2 separate regions of the Homo sapiens genome follow, and region 1 is linked to region 2. The links come from fine-mapping of genetic effects on gene expression. A gene starts in region 2. The other region holds a variant in brackets. All regions are shown on one strand. Distances are between the middles of the regions.

The links. PIP is the estimated chance that this variant, and not a neighbour inherited with it, causes the effect.
Region 1: its variant is the best candidate, but not a certain one, in a credible set for the expression of THAP10 in whole blood (TOPMed, PIP 0.89).

What each region holds. Positions count from the first base shown.
Region 1 is chr15:70,930,710-70,934,709 of GRCh38, forward strand. All of the region lies in intron 7 of LRRC49 (leucine rich repeat containing 49), which reads left to right. Among named protein-coding and RNA genes, the nearest start is that of LRRC49, 40 kb to the left of the region's middle. The variant A/C (reference allele first, on the strand shown) is at 1,893.
Region 2 is chr15:70,890,008-70,894,007 of GRCh38, forward strand. It overlaps THAP10 (THAP domain containing 10), which reads right to left and starts at 2,426. Exons shown (of 3, transcript NM_020147.4): 1 at 1,837-2,426. The coding sequence starts at 2,265. LRRC49 (leucine rich repeat containing 49) reads left to right here and starts at 2,819. Exons shown (of 16, transcript NM_017691.5): 1 at 2,819-2,935; 2 at 3,577-3,633. The coding sequence starts at 2,888. RefSeq lists an enhancer at 2,081-2,779.

The DNA of each region.
Region 1 (4,000 bases), 41 kb after region 2:
TCTAGGTAACTTGCTGCAGCTTTGACATCAGCACTTGCTGCTACTTCACCTTGCACTTTTATGTTCTGGAGATGGCTTCTGTCCTTAAACCTCATGAACCAACCTCTGCTAGCTTCTAGCTTTTCTTCTGCAGCTTCCTTATCTCTCTCAGCCTTCATAGAATTGTTGAGAGTTAAGGCCTTGTTCTGGATTAGGCTTTGGCTTAAGAGAATACTGTGGCTGGTTTGATCTTTCCAGACCATTCAAACTTTCTTCCTATTGTTTTTATTTATTAATTGTGTGTTCCACTGGAGTAGCACTTTTGATTTTCTCCAAGAACTTTTCCTTTGCATTCATAACTTGGCTAGCTGGTGAAAGAGGCCTGGTTTTCAGCCTATCTCAGCTTTCAACATGACTTTCTCACTAAGCTTAACCATTTCTAGCTTTTGATTTTAAGTGAGAGACTTGTAACTCATTTTTTCACTTGAGCACTTAGAGACCATTGTAGGGGTTATTAATTGGCCTAGTTTTAATATTGTTGTGCCTCGAGGCAAAGGTAGGACCAAGAAGAGGGAGAGAGATGGGGGAAGTGCCAGTGAGTGGAGCAGTCAGAACACACATTTGTTGATTAAGTTTGCAACCTTCTATGGGCACAGTTTGTGATGCCCCAAAACAATTGCAATAGTAATATCACAGATCACTGATCACGGATAATCATAACAAATATAATAATAATAAAATTTGAAATATTGTGAGAACTACAAAAATGTGACCTAGAGACGAAGTGAGCACATGCTGTTGGAAAAATGGCACTGACTTGGTTGATACAGGATTGCCACAAACCTTCAATTTGTAAAATTTAAAAAAAAGCACAATATCTGCAAAGCATAATTAAACGAGGCATGCATGTACCTTATTTTTTCTTGTTTTTAATTTTTTTCATTGCTCTTATAAATTTAAAGATAAATATTCCATAGTCTTTATCAAGTTACTATATTTTCTTAATTTTTTGGCATTTCTTCATCTGTTGCCTGAAAGTTCTACTGACTGTTACTCATGGTAATTTTTTCTTTATAGTTTAATAGTTTGGAATAGTCAGGATGTTGCAAAGCCTGAGTTGAATTCGTGTCCTTCTAGACAGTTTTGCCAGGAGTGTTAGGGTCATGAATGCCAGGTACCATTTTTTATGAGGGGTCTTTTTAGATTATGTTTGTGATGTAAGTTTGAACTGTAAATTCCAGTGAGGGAAAGCCTATGGTTATGAAATTGAGGCTTTTTATTGATTTCCTCAAAGCTGTTAAATCTAGCTCTCCTAGATTATAAAGACTGGACATTTCCCTAATTAGTCAGCATATCAGTGCCTTCTTACTGGTCTGGTTTTAAGTTCCCTTTCAGTTTTTGCTCTGGGGTATTAAAACAGTGTGTAGAAGAAAATCAGACTGGTGAATTGACTGATATCTATTGCTGTGTAATGGGTAGTAAACAAGTACAAAAACCAGATAAACCCATTAATGCCTTTGGATAACTGCCAAATAATGGACTTTTTTCATTGGCATTTATATATATGATTAGAGTTTTAATATGATGGCTTGCAGCTATTAGTCCTCATATAATAAGTGTCTGTGTCACAAAGTGATAGGTGAAGCAAGTAGTTATTTTGGAATTAATTTAATAAGTCTTTTTTTTAAAAAGGAATACTTCATTGTTTTTTGTTTCCAAGCTTGTTTGATGCTTTGTGAATGAATCTGTTTACAGCTCTCAAAGTTAGAATAATTACCCCTATATATTTTTACTCTAACTTGTTTTGTATGAAAGCCTACATAGTAAAAATGAGAGTAGCTATGATTTTATTATAGACATCTTTGCCCTACTTGTTGCATGTCAGAATCCTTGGTGCATGTCAAAATCTGTTC[A/C]CCTTTCTTCTTCCTTATTCCTCTAGAGGAAGCTGCTCTAAAAATAGCTCCAGTGATAGATATTCCCCACGTGATCAGATTGCTGAATCATTTAGTTCTTTTCTTTTCTTTTTTCTTTCTCTGTCTTTTTTTTTTTTTTTTTTTTTGAGATGGAGTCTTGCTCTGTTGTCCAGGCTAGAGTACAGAGGCGCAATCTCGGCTAACTGCAACCTCCGCCTCCCTCGTTCAAACAATTCTCCCGTCTCAGCCTCCCAAGTAGCTGGGACTATAGGCACACGCCTCCGTGCCTGGCTAATTTTTGTATTTTTAGTAGAGATGGGGTTTCACCACACTGGTCAGGCTGGTCTCGAACTCCTGATCTCAAATGATGCACCCACCTCACCTCCCAAATTGCTGGGATTACAGGCACAAGCCACCACACCTGGCCATTTAGTTCTTTTATGCAGTTTAGGGATATGGACAACAGTGCCTGAGCAGAGTAGGACAAGCATTTTTCTCAGAAAACAAATCAGTATTTTTTTGGAAAATAAAGAATTATAATCCTCTCAAATAATCTTGTGGTAAATAATTTTTTCTATTTTTTAAAAGATTATATTTTCCAAATACATAAAATAGTTTTGAATTTTACTTCAAAAAATGTTTTGAATATTATTTTCAGTATTATGTTTTATTAAAAATAATAAATTTAAGATAATGAGGAAATTAATAACGAGCTATAAATATTCCCCTACATGTAAACATTTTATTTCATTTTTTTCCCTCTCATCTTAGGTATGTTAACATTCTGGCTTCTTTGTTATAGTTTCTCTGATGCTGAAATAGTTACCTCCAGAAAGGATATGTTAGGGGTATTTAATGCTTGACAGTAAAATAAATACTTTTTCTTAAATAGATGAGAATTTACCTTTCTTACATTATCCCTAACCCCCATTTCCACTTTCCCTGTCATTCCGAAATAATTTTTAGGTAAGCAGATTGTTGAGTGCTGGCTCCTGCAGAGTACCGCCAGAATGACTAGTTGATAAAGCAAAGGAGAAATTACTACTGGCAAGTAAAAGCACACTGCCTTGACATAGCCTTGGCTGTATCTTCGAAGGCAGAGACAGGAGATTTAGTTTGAAATTTCTTGGGGTTCTGGTTTAGGGTGGGTCTTTCAATGCAGGGGCTTAATGAAAATGGATACATTTATGATAGAATAGATTAGGATGGTTGACAAAGCACGGTGAGGTTTTCAAAGTGAGTCTTGGACCATGATGTTAAACTTTTGTTTTCCCTGAGATTAATAGCTGTCTCAATTTAGGGCTTGTTTAACTATCATTAATGTCCAAACTCTCCAACAAAACCCTAAAATCCCTTTCTGTATAGGCAAAGACTTCAGGTGATCTGTGTTTCATTTTTACCTCTTGGAGATACCCTTCTAGAGCCTCCTGTCCCCTGTCTAATGAAGTCTGCTTGCATTTAGCCCTGCTATACAGATTTCATCCTTGGATTTCTCTTTGCCTCTCCTAGATGATGAATTGTACTCCCTGAATCTTATATATATCCCATCTTTTGTTTACTCTCTTATATTAGAGGAGCCATCCCCTAGTAGTTTTTAACAGGTCTTTCTTCTGTAAATAATGCATGCATAGATAATTGATACGGTAAATACGGTGTTTTCTTTTTGTCTATTATAATGCTAGAATTTTGTTACAAAAGTATATCACAGAATTGCTAAAAAATTGGAGAAAAGTTAACATTTTCTTACAGAAATGAAATTTGGAACAACGAAAAATGATTGTGTATAATTATTTGCTTTTTAAAGTTCTGGAAAGGGTATCTATGTAAGTGATTATGAGGATATATAGAATTGAATTCTGCATTTTAGTGTTTCAACTTGTGAATATTTTTATATTTTTGATAACTCTACTAGGCAATGACATTTAATGATTTTTAAAATTTGATAAAGACGTAAAATTTTGTCTCATAAACAGAGATTAAATAATTATAATTTTGTCAAATAAACTTAAAAAACTTTTTCTCACAAATTATATCCTGATGGAATTTGAGTTTTCTATTTTTATTGAAAAAAGTTATGTCTTAGAAGGTGTTTATAATCTCTGAAGATG
Region 2 (4,000 bases):
TTAATGTACTATGGATTGTTATAAATGTTGGCTGGTTATACTTACTAAATGGAAAACAGATTTATTATGTATGCTGGATCTGTTTCCCAACGGTTAGTTTTTATGGGTTATAAAGACTTTGGTTGTTTGACTAGCTTGGCTTTTCTTCTCCCAATTTTTGATTAGGTTGTGTAATTATGAAGAAGAAAAATGGTGTAGGGGGATGTGTGTGGCACATGTTTAGTATTTATCTCTCTTGCTACACACATATATATGTATGTGGATGTATATGTTTGGGCAAAGTTTGTATAGGTGGTGATGGTGGACAGATGGTTCAAGGAAAGGACAGCTATCTTGACAGGTATACAGCTTGGTGAGGAGGGAAACTGGCAGATAATTGAAAATTCAATTATAATGCAAAAATTTGTTCTTATAGTCATGTAATCATTCCATAAATATTTATTGAATTACTTAAATTTGTAAAATATTGTTTTAGGCACTGCAATACAATGGCAAAGAAATCAGACATGATCCTAGCTCTCATGGAGCTTACATTCTAATATGAGAAACAAATATTAAGCAAACTACACAATTATTTCATGGCAATTATGGTAAGTGCTACTGAAGTATCTGTGCTATTGAATCACATGGAGTACACGAAGAATGAGAGTACATAACTAAGGGATCAAGGGGAAAGATGTTTAGCTGATTTTTAAGGGAAAAAGACTTAATTGGCAATGATGGGAGTGGGAGGGGCATAGTTCCAGGATATTATAATACATGCAACAACTGAGCAAAGTCTTGTTGGTAGGAAGTAATATAGTATAGTATGTCCAAGAACTGAAAGGTCAGCATGATGGTACACAGTGAGCAACAGGGACAGTGGCCTTGGTTAGGGCTAGTGTGGTATGCAGGGGGAAAAAACATGCAGGGCCATGTAAATTGGGTTAATAATTTTGCTCTTTATCTTAATAATTGCAAGATGCCATTAAAGGGTCTTAAATACCCACCCCAATGTAGGAAGCAGGTTAGTACTGCAGAAAGAGTGTTGGTCTGGCAACCGGACCTAAGTAAGGATTACAGACCCCTGAGGAAATTACTAACCTCTTGCTATAATTTAATCTGTGTAATGGTGGCAAGGCTGAAGTTTATCACAAGGAAGGCTGGAAAGTTTTCTTTAAAATGGTACGTGGGGAAGAAGGTAGTAGTAACCAGATGCAAAATGAGTGCAAACAATGTTTAGAAGGAACAGAAAAGTAGGCAGAAGAGAGCAAGATGGGGAAAGTCAGCTCACTAGGGATACTGAACTTAAAGGCAGCTGGAGCTAGTTATCAGTCATAAAGGAAGCTTGGGGTGGGAAGGGATTTATTAGCAAGCTCCATCATCTTCATCTGTAGCTCCACATCTCCTTCGCCCCATCATTTGTGACACAAATAAGGGACTTTCCTCAAGCTTATGTAATGTTATGCAACACAGTTTCAAGCACTCCAATCCTGGAGATTTGCTCAAATTAAACCCTTTCTATTTAAAAACTCTGGAGCAGCGAGTGAAAGCAACTCACTACTCTGCAGGACAAGACTCTGTGTGTGTGTGTGTGTGTGTGTGTGTGTGTGTGTGTGTGTGTGTGTGTGTGAGTTTTGGGGGAGGAGCAGTTAGAAGGAATTAACTGGGTCACTTAATTCCAAAGTGTTAATGATAAGTGGGACCTTGGAGATCACCTCTAAAGCACACCCCTAACTTTGCAGATTAGAAAACAGGAACTTTCGAGATGAGGTGCCTTTCCCAAGGTGACACTAAGTGGAGGAGCCCAGCCAGAGTCCAGGGGTCCTTACACAACCTTCGGTGGTCTCTCTTTACCTGTGAAGCTGCAGCCTGCTTCCCAGCTCGGGGGCGTGTACAGGAGACTGGACCTGGGGCAGCCTCAGAATGCCTGGCTGCCTGGAGCTCTCCTCGCGTGTCCAGGCGGCCTGCTTGGTCTCCCTCCTCTCCCCTCTTAGGTGCCGGGGCGGGCACCCGGTGCAGGGTGGGCACGGCGCCTGCCACCAGCCTCAGGCGCTGGGAGAAGCGCAGGTTCTTCTGGATAACCGAAGAGACGTCAAAACAGGCTGGGGCAAAGTGGTCAGAGCAGATGACCGAGCGGTCATTGCCTCCGTACCAGTCGGCGCGGCAACCCCGCACGAAGCGGTCCCAGAGCAGCCGCACGGCCCGGTCCTTGGGAAAGCGGAACAGCGACTTCCCAGACTTGGTGGTGTTGCCGCAGTGGGCGGCCACACAACGGGCCGGCATGGCGGCCGTCTTCGGTGCGCGGGAGCCGGGTTCCCTGGACCTTCGCCCTTGGGCACGCTCCTCGCAGCGGCCTCGGCGAGGCAAGTCCTCCCCTCCTCACCTGTCCACTCCGGGTCGGGATTGTTTCCTTCCCTACCTCTGGTCACCGGAAGTGGCGATCTGGGGCCCCCAATGGGAGGGCTCTTTGATATCTTCCTCCTCCTCCTCCCTGCGCTGCTCCCCAGGAGCCAGTGGACACAAGCAGAGGGATACAAATTTCGCGCGGGCAGCGCTGAGGTGGGCCGTAAAGAGGAACGGACCGGAAGTGGTGGTGGTTATAGCAACCAGTGTGGCCAGCCTCTTCCCCAGCTTATCCTCCTCCCAATACTCCCGCTCTGTTTTTATGAGGCTGGGAAAATAGAACGAGGAAGTGGTGACGCACTGGGCTCTCACGAATACAACTAGAAGCTGCAACGACTGTGTGGCTCTATCGATTCGGGAGAGGTCCAGACCGGAAATGGTCGTTTCCATGGTAACCCTGAGCAGGTTGCCTGGGAGATGACCTCTTTCGGGTCTCTTTGAATCTCCGCTGTAGCGTCACCTGGAAGGCAGATCTAACAGAGAACCTGGACTGTCTCCTATCATGATTCCCGGGAAATATCGCTCTGTTTCTGGCCGGGCTGCGAACAACGTAAGTTGGGCCTTCTACTTTCTCTTTCTTCCCACTGGTACTCTTTCTGACTGGCGTCTTTGTCCTAGGAGATGGGCTGTATTATTAGGACCGGCACCGCTGGGTCTACTCAAGCTATTGTCTGACCAGGGTTTGAGGTTCGTGGGCTGGACCAAGGCACAATTTAATATTGTATGATGGGTACTCAAAGTCTTGTCCAGGATCTGGGCTCCCCAGAAGGTGGAGCTGGTCTGCTGTGAAAGGCTTGGGTTTATTTAAATTCCTTTGGCCAGTCAATTCCTTTTTCTTTTCTTTTCCTTTTAACTGTGAAGAGAATTTATCATTAGGGACTCCCACCTCCTTCACCTGTCTCATTGAGATGTTTATTTAGACCTGAATGGCAAATGTCGAAAGCCTGAGGTACTAACTAGAGGGTTAAATTGCTGCCGACATTTTGGAAAATAAATCAGTGAAACCTTTTAATTCTTAGATGTGATTTTATTGTTTTCAGCAAATCCTCAGAACAAGATCATTTACCAGAAACAGAAATAGAGCATTGTGTTCTATTTTTTTGTTGTATTTCTGTTTGTACCTTTTTTTTTTTTGGAAATATGTGTTTGTGTATTAAGAGCAAATTTTATGGTTTAATTTTTACATTTCAGGTGAACTGCGGGCTTCATCTGGTTATTCAAACATCATCGCTTCCTGAAAAAAACAAAGTAAGATTTAAGAAGGTTGGCATTTAAATTGAAGATTGTTTTAAATTCTACACAAATAGCAGCATGACTTAAAGTGTAGATAGATTCTAAACTGAAAAATTTAAGTAGATTTGCTTTGATTTCCAGTTTAAAGCTAGTTCTTACTTTCTGCCTACATAAAGCTAAAATAGCCCTCTTTAAAAAACTTAATGTGATTTTATTGATTACAAAAGGGTAAGGGTTTTTTTGTTTTTTTTTTTTGACATTTACACTTTTTTTTTTCTTGAGACAGGGTCTAGCTGTATCACCCAGGCTGGGGCGCTGGGGTGCAGTGGCACAATTTTGGCTCACTGCAACCTCTGCCTCCCAGGCTCAAGCGATCCTCCCA